3 linked regions of the Homo sapiens genome follow. The protein of the gene in region 3 interacts with the protein of the main gene of each other region in a pairwise test. Each region holds a gene or a part of one and is shown on either strand. Other genes may lie near its edges. The genes, in order: HNF4A, CDC25A and DMD.

Region 1 (3,655 bases), on a different chromosome or scaffold from region 3:
CTTTTACTTAATGGACAATGTCAACTAATGGAATTCTCACCCAAGAACATCTTCACCCAATGGGTTACCTCATCCAGTGGATTGCCTCATCCCAACAATGGCTTCATTCAGTAAAGGCTGTCAGTCACCTTACTGAATAAACAGCCTCAACAAATGGACAATCTTGCCCTTTATTCCCTACCCTGGAACCCAGAAAACTGTTGCATCCTGGTTCTACCTTCTAGACTCCACTTTCTCCTGCCTCCTGTCTTAAGCCCCATCCTCACCCTTTGCAAGGTAAAATCCCAGAGTTTGCCCACCTGCCTGTCCCCTGGGTCGGGGCCACTCACACATCTGTCCGTTGCTGAGGTGAGTGGGCATTGTGTTGGCAACGATGACGTTGGTTCCCATATGTTCCTGCATCAGGTGAGGGTGCAGGGGGTGGTGGGCATGGGGTGCATCGCTGGGGGACCCTGCAGGTAGAGAAGGTCGATCAGGATGGAGAGTCTGGGATGCAGACCTCAGGCCTTGGGACGCCATCTTCCTCAGGCGTGGCCAATCAACCAGCCCATCCAATATTGGCAGTGCCTGTTGGGTACCTATTCCTGGGTTAGTAAACTAGGGTGTACCATTCCCATCTATAGACTTCATGAGGGTGTTAAGAGGACCCCAAAAAACCAAGAGAACAAAAGTGAGTTGAAAGGAACAAGGTGCATATAAGGAAGCTCTGAGATCACGTAAATGTTCTAATGAGTAGTGTATTGGTCACATAGTAACATAATGGATGTAATCAATGGCTCTCAAAGCTCCTTGGAGTGCAAGTCCTTCAACCATTTGGTCCCGCCTCACCTTTCAGCCTCATCCCCCACATCTCTGCTGCAGCCAACTGACCTACTTATAGCATCTATGTGTCCCCTGTGTTTTTCTATCTCTATGCTTCTGCTCACGTTGTTGCTTCTGTCAGAGATGTTTTTCCACCCCAAACCTGTTCCATGTCCATAAGCCCAAATCCCAGCTCATATATTTCCTCTCTTTAGAAGCCTCTCCTGATTCTCCTTCCTTGGATTTCTCATAGTAATTTGTCTGTAACACAACTTTTAGGAACAACCACTTCTTCTGTCTATGAGCATTACAATTTCAGAGGTATTTTTCTTCTTTCTTTGAGGGCCTAGCAGATTGTCTGGAACACAGTAACCGCTTCAAACATATGTCAGGGAGTAAAAATACCACATGGGATATGGTTTAATAATAGCCTATGGTGAGTAATATGACGATGATGGAATTTCAACGCTTGCAAGCGATCTCTACAGTACATCTATTTCAGTGATAAATAACAATTGTTGATAATTAACAATTATCACGTGCCAGGTACTGTTGTATAGCACTTCCCATGTTTCACATAATTTAATCCTCACAGCAATCCTATAGGATGGATACTATTATTAGCCCATTCTACAGATGAGACAACTGAGCCCAGAGAGCTCTTAATTATTTGGCAACAGACCACAGGCTCCTGATCCTGATCTCAATGACACCTGATTCATAATAACCCCATGTTCACAGGGTCAAAGTGAGAATGAAATGAGCTATCACATAACAGCGATTCCCAACTGGGGATGATTTTGGCCCATCAGGAGACATTTGACAATATCCAAAGACATTTTTGGTTGTCACCACTGGAGAAGTGCTACTGGCACCTTATGGGTACAGGACAGAGATGCAGCTGAACAATGTACAGGACAGCCCCACACAACAAAGAATTGTCCAGTTCCAAGTATCAATAGTACCAATGTTGAGAAACCTCACCCTCGCCTTGTCATCTTCAGTCACTGAAACACCTCCAAAATCTCGAATTCAACATCCCCACTTTGACTTCACCTCATGTCCTTCCAGCTCCCGTAATCTAATACCATCGCTGCAAAAATTCTTCAGCCCTACTGAGACTGTCAATTCACTGACACTCTCTTTTCACTATCACCCCATCCTTTTGTTGTTGTTGTTGAGACAGAGCCTTGTTCTGTCGCCCACGCTGGAGTGCAATGTCATGATCTCAGCTCACTTCAACCTCCATCTCCCGGGTTCAAGTGATTGTCCTGCCTCAGCCTCCCGAGTAGCTGGGATTACAGGTGCATGCCACCATGTCTGGCTAATTTTTTTTTGTATTTTTAGTAGAGATGGTGTTTTGCTGTGTTGCCAGGTTGGTCTTGAACTCCTAGCCTCAAGTGATCCACCCGCCTCGGCCTCCCAAAGTGCTAGGATTACAGGTGTGAGCCACCGTGCCCGGCCTCTATCTTTATTTCTTTTTGAGTGCAGCCCAGACTCCATGACCTATCATTCTAATCACTCCCTTGCAGTCATCCTAACTCCTTCATACTCCCCTTCATAGTCAAACCATTTCAAAGGGTTATCTACTCTATCTCCACCTTCCCACTCACTCTCTTTGGAGCACTCTCCAATCTGGTTTCCACTCTCCCAGCTCTCTGATGCTGCTTTCAACACAATTGCCAAGAGCCTCCAGCTGTCAATCCAATGGACCCTTTCCTCTCTCTTCCCCTCCTCTCTTCACCTCTCCTTTCTTCCCCGCTTCTTTCTGTTTCTCTGTAGAGTTTAACACCATTAAACACTCTGTCCTTCAAACACGCTCTTCTCTTGGATTCTGGAATTGCCCTGGTTTTCTCCTACCCCTCTGGCCAGTCTTCTTCCCTTCCCTCCATGGCTCCATCTTCCCCCTGATTCCACAGAGCTGCCTTTAATCTTGTGCTTGAGCAACAGACTCATACATTCAACAGCCTCCTTGATAACTTGGATTTGTAATAGTCATCTCATGCTTAATGAAAGTCCACAATGAGGCTGGGCATGGTGGCTCACACCTGTAATCCCAGCACTTTGAGAGGCCAAGTCGGAAGGATTGCTTAAGGCTAGGAGTTCAAGACCAGCCTGGGCAACATAGTGAGACCTTGTCTCTATAAAAAATAAGAATGAAGAATTAGCTGGGTGTGGTGGCACGCACCTGTAGTCCCAGCTACTTGAAAGGCTGGGGTAGGAGGATCTCTTGAGCCTGGAAGGTTGAGGCTACAGTGAACTATGATTGCGCCACTGCACTCCAGCCTGGGTGGCAGAGAGAGATCTCGTCTCAAAAAAAAAAAAAAAAGGAAAAAAGAAAAGAGGGTCCACAATGGATCTCTGAGGTCACCCCTCACTACCACCCCCAGACCCAGTGTCTTGTTGTTTATTCTGTCCTCCTCATTTCAGTAAATTACTCCATCGTCATTTCTGCTACTCAAAGCAAAAATGTAGACTTTGTCCTTGACTCTTCCTCTTTCTCTCACTCCCTATGTCTGATCAATCAGCAAATCCTGTGGGTGTGGGCTCTTCCTCCAAATAGATGATCAGGTTTATCTTCACTGCTCCATTGCCAGGGTCCAAGCCTCCATCATCCATCACATGATTGGAGACAGTGACATTCTCAGGAATCTGCAATTCACTCTCTACCCAACAGAGTGGTTTGTTTGAAGCATTAGTCTGGGATGGGTGTGGCGGCTCACACCTGTCATTCCAGCACTTTGGGAGACTGAGGTGGGTGATCACTTGAGGTCAGGAGTTTGAGACCATCTTGGCCAATAGGGTGAAACCCTGTCTTTACTAAAAATATAAAAAAATGAGCAGGGCGTGGTGG
Region 2 (3,655 bases), on a different chromosome or scaffold from region 3:
AACCCAGTTCCGTGCAGCACTCACATGCGGGGACCTCTCTCAGAAGAAAACTCGCAGTGAAACACAACAATGACACGCTTGCCATCAGTAGGTACAATGGGCTTCTTCAATAAGAAGTCTTCAACCTCTTCTTCCATGTGCAAGTTCACTGCACCCTGTGAAGACAACAGAGACCCTTGGAACCTGCACGTTTCACACATGAAGTAATGATTCAGCAAGATGTAATGATTCATCAAGAGTGATCTTTAAGTCCACAAGACCAGTTTGTGATTTTTGCAGTTCTTCTAGCTGAATAGCCCAGTAGACCATTTGGCACCTGTATCTCAATGGAGCTTTGTGGGTCCGTACACGTTCATCATACAGTAATGCACATGGGGACTGGAAATGGGCAATTCAAATATGACAATGGTACACTTTATAGGTAGTTTTATAAATTTGGGGATTTTCAAAAGCCACAAGACAATGGCAAACAGTAACATCGTATTTAAAGTACCTCCTTACTATATTTAAACACTATTAATCGGGTAAAACATTAAAATGGCAGGCCAGGCGCCGTGGCTCATGCCTGTAATCCTAGCACTTTGGGAGGCTGAGGCGGGCGGTTTGCCTGAGCTCAGGAGTTTGAGACCAGCCCGGGCAACATGGTGAAACCCCGTCTCTACTAAAAAAAAAAAAAAATTAGCCGGGCGTGGCAGCGTGCACCTGTAGTCCCAGCTACTTGGAAGGCTGAGGCAGGAGAATTGCTTGAACCCAGGAGGCAGAGGTTGTGGTGATCCGAGATCATGCCACTGCACTCCAGCCTGGCGACAGAGCGGACTCTGTCTCAAAAAAAAAAAAAAAAAAAGATTAAAATGGCAAAATCAGTTCCTTTCTTCTTGGGAACGTGTGTCCCAACACGCCCCTCCACCAGGCAGCTTGCTGAACAATCAACTTTGGAGGCATCACTAGGCCTGGCACAGACACCAGGACATGTTGCCAGAGATGGTCTTCTCCTCATCAGGAGCCCTGGGGTGCTCAGACATTGGTACCCAAGCCTCTTAAATGCTATGAAACCCATTCTTGTCCCCCGAATGACTTAAACATCAGTGGGTACCTCCTACAAGTGTCCTTGATAATGATGGTGTGAGGGACAAACATGAAGAATAACTGTGCACAAGGTGGTAGAGAGTATTGCAGACAAGGGAACATTCGTTAAGAGCACCCGGAATCAAATGCCTTCCACACTCACTGTATTGTTTCAAAATTCTAACAACTAGCATATGAGCTAAGTGGCCAGGTGTCACTGTCCTCCCCACTTTAAAACCACAGATCCTGTTTAGGGCTCCTTCTACAGCAAGTCTCAGGAATCCATACCTTGATGTGGCCTCCCTCGTATTCATATGGGTATCGACAGTCGATGATAACAAACTCTTTAATGAGGTTGGCAAACTTGCCATTCAAAACAGATGCCATCTGTTGAGAGAAAATTAGGGAGAATCAACTTTGACCGTCAGGGAAAACTAGATTCAAGTACCCGATGTGTGGTGGGTTTCAAAAGGATGGACTTACAATTTCTGGAGAGATGTATTTTAAATCCTGATGTTTCCCAGCAACTGTATGAAAGAGATAACCCTTAAAAAGAAAAAAAGATACTTAGAGAATCTGAAAGCCTATATATTATTCACACTTATACTGTTTTGTCTGGCTGGTAGGAGGCATCTTTTAAAAAACAAACATTAATGGCCAGGCACGGTGGCTCACACCTGTAATCCCAGCACTTTGGGAGGCCGAGGCTAGTGGATCACCTGAGGTCAGGAGTTCGAGACAAGCCTGGCCAACATGGTGAAACCCCAACTCTTTTAAAAATACAAAAATTAGCCGGGCGTTAGCATGCACCTATAGTCCCAGCTACTCGGAAGGCTGGAGTGGGAAAATCGCTTGAATCCAGGAGGCGGAGGTTGCAGTGAGCTGAGATTGCACCACTGCACTCCAGCCTGGGTGACAGAGCAAGACTCCCTCTCAAAAAACAAACAAACAAACAAGCAAACAAACATTAGTTAGTACACACTAGTTACTCTTCTAGTTACTTCATTAACATCCTGACATTTAATTTTCACACAAACCAATGAGGTATATTATCCCCATTTTGAGCACCTTATCCAAGGTTACCTAGCTAGTAAGGCAGATTTAAATAAAGAAACCTCAGGTAATCTCATTTTCCTCCTGCTTTTGTCAAGAATCCACACGTCAGTAGTTAGACTGCGAATAGCACTTAAACATACAGATTTCACTCATTTACTGAGCACCTGCTATGTCCAGCATGGTGCCAGGCACTGGGGATAGGAAAAAAAGAGACCTAGCCCAGCCTTGAGGAGGAAGATGCACACATTAGCAATTACTCATTAGGGTGACTGGCTGAGCCAAGAGTTCATCTATCCCCATGCATAGGCCCATTAAGACAAATATAACCAGGCCTCAATTCAAGTTGAAAATTCCACTGAGTGTGGTGGTGCATGCCTGTAGTCCCAGCTACTTGGGAGGCTGAGGCAGGGGGAGCACTTGAGGCCATAAGTTTGAGGCTACAGTGTACTATGATAGCATGTGCGAATAGCCACTGCACTACAGCCTGAGCAACATAGTAAGACCACATCTCTCCCTGCCAAACAAGAGAAGGTTCCAAAACTGAGGATACAGCTGGATCTTTGCTTGTTCTCTTCATTCTCCGTTCCTTCAAAACCCATTTGGGCTGAAATATCAACGGCCCAACCCCAGACGTTCCCCAACCCCCTAGCCAAGATAAACCCTTTTACTTCTCACGGCATGCTGTTTATGTTTACACCTCACTAAAATTTATTTCAGTCTACCATGTGGTACATGTAGTTCACGTCTCACCTCTCCAACCACATGCTAAATTCTTTGAGGGAAGGAACTGTATCTCATTTTGGAATCTCTGCCTAACACATAAGTGCTTCAATAAATGTTAACTAAATTAATGAATAAAACATTGATCTGGTAACCTTCAAGTCAAAATGTGATTAAAGAAGCTGCTATTGACACATTCCCTGTCCTAGCCTTGTATTTTACTGCAGCCAAGCCTTCATGTAGTATATCAGGCTATTAGAAGATCTTCCTCTAGACTTCCTGGAGGGTCTTTTCCCTCAATGGCCAAGCTTCTCTGAACGGAGAAATTCAGTCTCAATCCCAGACCTTCTAAGATAACCTTTCAACATGCAGACTTGTAGTGTGGCTACAGATTTATTTCTGCTGTACACTATCCTGCTAATTACTATTTTTATAATAACACAGTTCCCAGAGAGCCTAGTCTTTGGGTTACAATCAAGGTGGTTGGTGGACAGCTCCCTACCTAAAACTGCCCATCAGCTATAGTGATATCTACAGTCTCAGAAACCAACATATACCTGATCATGAGAAACTAAGTTTGCTTCCCTACCTTTAACATTCTTTTAACTGTGTCCTTTTGGAGGTATGCCAGGAACCACCCTGGGGAGGGAGACAGGCTGAGTGGGATTCTAAATACCCACACTCCCTCCTACACTTGCCAGAGCAGCTCTGCTTGCAATTACCTTGGAGAAGTCTCCTATAAGGTCCCTTGGGTCATTGTCCAAAATGTTCTCAATGGTTCCTTTGGGGGAAGATGCCAGGGATAAAGACTGAT
Region 3 (3,655 bases):
TGAGATAAATGCTTCTCCTTCCAAGGCTTGCATAGCCACATTTATCTTACTATACCAAATCATGCTCTAAATGCAAAACAATTAACTATTTGAAAAAAGAAAACAGCAAGTGCATGCTTTCAAATCAATGTGATAAGACTAATTTAATAAATCAACAATGGGAGGAAATCAGTCATCATGCTCTTTACAAGCACACTCAATATCTTCTGTGATTAATAGAATTACTCAAAATGCCATTTTATAATTCATGGGAACATAAGCTCTGCATGCAGCTTTCATTTCTACAGAAAGTAGCAATTAGGGTTTTATTCACAGGTTTAATTCGAGCGAAAAAATAATAAATATCAGGGAATTTCTAAAAATTTCATTCCATTGGAAAATTTTGACCTTCTCTAAAATATTTCATAAGGACCAGAATTGGAACTATTTGACAGGTTTAAAAAGTTATTGAATATGTTGGTATAGATTGGTTTGGCGAGTAGTGTTGACGATTTTGATTAATCACTTATAGCCTGTATTTGCAAGAATGAACTACATTTCATTATCTAGTTTGTTTAAAATTGGGAATTTAAACCTTGCTGTACTTTATGTTTTATGTTGAATTTTCAAACCTTCTGAGGAGTCAGATCGAACGCTGCTTTTTTCAAAGGTAGCAAGATACAGCCACGTGAATTAGAGTTGAGCCATGCCTTATTTGTGACATAACTCACATCTTTGCCAGGAGAAAGGGCTTGGTGGTCATCAATCTGAAACATCTTTCATTTCCTAAGCACAAAGTGATGTATAATATGTAAAATATTTAGAGATGTCATGTAGATTTCTTTAGAGGAATGCCAGATGACCATTAAACACTGCTATTCAGTAGGACACACACCATCATACGACCAGTGTAGATACTTCTGAAAGCTTGCTCACAGTTGGAAGGGTGTGAGTTACATAGCGTTCCGATTTTCTAGACACATTATGGTGTGCTTTTGCACTCCCTCGAGGAAGAGGCCTTTTCTGTTTACTATATTTATCAGCAGTTACCTTCAGAACACCTGCTGGCCAATTAGACTTTCCTTGTGGATTCCTTGCAGGCACAATATTGTGTAATTACATTCTCAGCAGTGTTTATTTGGTTGACTATAGGGGGAAAGGTTTTATTCTCTTATTTGCATGTAGAAAGCAGACTCCATCTACCTGCTAGGTGGATCCACCTTCATAACTACATAGCTCAAAAGAGTGATTTACAAGGAAAAGCTCAGCAATTAAAAGTATTAGAAAATCAGCCATGCATGCAAATAGTGATTATTGCAAAGCATATACAAAAAAAAAGTTTCACAAAACTTTCCACATGTCTAGTCTCAAGAACTTCCTAGATATTATTATAGAAAAATTAAGTTTATCCTGCTCTTCCTGCACAAACCAGATGAGTCACCTGGGGACTTGAAGCCATACACTACACTGCTTAATATGAAAGTAGCAGTTCTTATTCAAGGGCACTAAGATTATTTTTTAGGATTCCTACATAAATGAAATTTGACTTTGTAGATAGTTGCAAAGAGTGACTTTCTTAAAGGCATAATAAAGTTTTAAAAATAAATAAAAGAATCTAGGGCTTATTAAACAAGTATCAGGTTACCAAAAAATTGGACCTAATGCAAGCAAAATCAATTAAGTAAAGAAAGCAGGAATAATGGATACATGTAGATCGGTTATTCTGGCAGTTAGGCAGGTTTTTTTCAATATAAAGTAGCTGATAAAAATAAAGCACATTAGAAAATTAAATGTATAAGTACTATGAATGCATTCCCATCTTTCAATTACTACTTAGAAAAATATGTCTTTAAAAAGCCATAACTTTTAAGCAACACATCGTTCAAAATCAAATACCACTCAAAAATGTTAAATAAAGCATACACATTGAACAGAAAAAGTGAGTTTCTGATGACTAAGTCTGAAGCAGATTTTATTAATGCACATTATATTTTACCCTATATATTAAAAAAAAACCACAGGCAAGGTATATTATAATTTTAGCTCTAATACCTTGAGAGCATTATGTTTTGTCTGTAACAGCTGCTGTTTTATCTTTATTTCCTCTCGCTTTCTCTCATCTGTGATTCTTTGTTGTAAGTTGTCTCCTCTTTGCAACAATTCTTTTACAGTACCCTCATTGTCTTCATTCTGATCAAAAACAACAAGTACAGTCTTCATTTTGGTTTTTAAAAAGCTGTACATTGTTAACAGAGATAATAAGACATGTTATTTAAACACACACAAAAATCCAATTTAAAACTTTCATGGAATGCTATTATAAGATACTGTGCTCATAGCCTTTCTTTTACATTTGGTACTTGAGGTTTCAAAATAAGTTTCCTCCCATCTAGTTGTAAAGAACACATTTTTAGGGGCACCTGTAGAAAGATGGGGGAGTGTGGTACTTCATCATGTCAGACAAGTCATGAATTACTGTGAAAGTATTCTTTTGGCTTTTTTAGTGTAGTTCTAGAAATTAAAACATTAGAGAAATGAGCTAAAGTTATCATTTATAATGTTAACTGATCCATAAAGGAATACAGATGTGTATTTGTGACTGAGATAACAGCAAATCTGAAAATATTAACACACAACTACATGAAAATATTTTGATTTAAATGTACACTAATTCCTATCTAATAACTCCTGCTTCATTTCTGAAACCTAAATGCTCAATATTAATAGGAGAAATATCAGGATATTAATAAAAATCATGTGCTAAGTTACCATCAAATAATTTCTAAAATATGTCATATATGCATGTTAATTTAAATACGATCAAATAATACTAAAATATGGACTGGAAAATGGCTTTAAACATTTTCAATGGGTATTTTGTTCCTTTAGGCTGCAAGAACAATATCTTAATTTTCTTTACTTAGAAATAAAATGTTTTGAATAAATGCTGGTCTAATATAGTCGCATATATGACCATGTGATTTTTCACCTTTAGTTTTCTTTCTTTCAACTCAGAATGTGAAAACTTTGTATCAAGTAGTCTCACATTGTAATGGTACTCAAGGTACACTGATGACATAAGGAAAACAAATAATAAATTTCAAAAGTCACAAGTATTTGTATGTGTGTATTACAATTCAAGGAATTAGATGTTATATATTTAAATCTATAATGCATAAACTTCAACACGCAACTGAGGACTGATTCATTTTGTATGGGGGAAAGGGATTATTTTTGTCAGAGACTGGTCAATAATCTAAAGAAACATACGGCATAATATAGACACATTATATACTTATCATAATATAGACACATCATATACTTATAGTCTGTAAAAGACTTTACTTATTTTAAAAGGTGTTGTAAAAGTCTGTAGCATTTTCTAGGGCTGAGGACAAAAACAACAAAAAATTAAAAAACCCACTTCACTTCTTTCCCTATACCAGTTGAGGGCTCTAGGGCAGAGTTGGGGTCAGCCCAAGAGGTAATCAGTACTTTTTTTCATCTTGGTGCCCTCTAGTTTCTTCTTTGACCTGAAGTAGAGATTGCTGTAACTCAGCAACTTGGAAAGCCTCTTCCGTCTTTCCACAAGCTGAGTTGGCAAGGCCACCAAACCCCATACATGGGGAGTATTGATTGAGGCAGCTCCAGGAAGTGGGAACTAAGATTGGTGGGA

Evidence for each region.
Region 1: the proteins of DMD (region 3) and HNF4A interact in binary tests that used the Homo sapiens proteins (3 or more experiments, as listed by UniProt).
Region 2: the proteins of DMD (region 3) and CDC25A interact in a two-hybrid assay, tested with the Homo sapiens proteins (one large-scale study listed by BioGRID and IntAct).

What each region holds. Positions count from the first base shown.
Region 1 is NC_000020.11:44,425,132-44,428,786, reverse strand, and holds part of HNF4A (hepatocyte nuclear factor 4-alpha), read right to left. Parts: intron 453-3,655; coding exon 300-452; intron 1-299. UniProt on the Homo sapiens protein: Transcriptional regulator which controls the expression of hepatic genes during the transition of endodermal cells to hepatic progenitor cells, facilitating the recruitment of RNA pol II to the promoters of target genes. Activates the transcription of CYP2C38.
Region 2 is NC_000003.12:48,164,283-48,167,937, forward strand, and holds part of CDC25A (M-phase inducer phosphatase 1), read right to left. Parts: coding exon 3,564-3,655; intron 1,612-3,563; coding exon 1,549-1,611; intron 1,453-1,548; coding exon 1,354-1,452; intron 156-1,353; coding exon 25-155; intron 1-24. UniProt on the Homo sapiens protein: Tyrosine protein phosphatase which functions as a dosage-dependent inducer of mitotic progression. Directly dephosphorylates CDK1 and stimulates its kinase activity. Also dephosphorylates CDK2 in complex with cyclin-E, in vitro.
Region 3 is NC_000023.11:32,343,912-32,347,566, forward strand, and holds part of DMD (dystrophin), read right to left. Parts: intron 2,170-3,655; coding exon 2,032-2,169; intron 1-2,031. UniProt on the Homo sapiens protein: Anchors the extracellular matrix to the cytoskeleton via F-actin. Ligand for dystroglycan.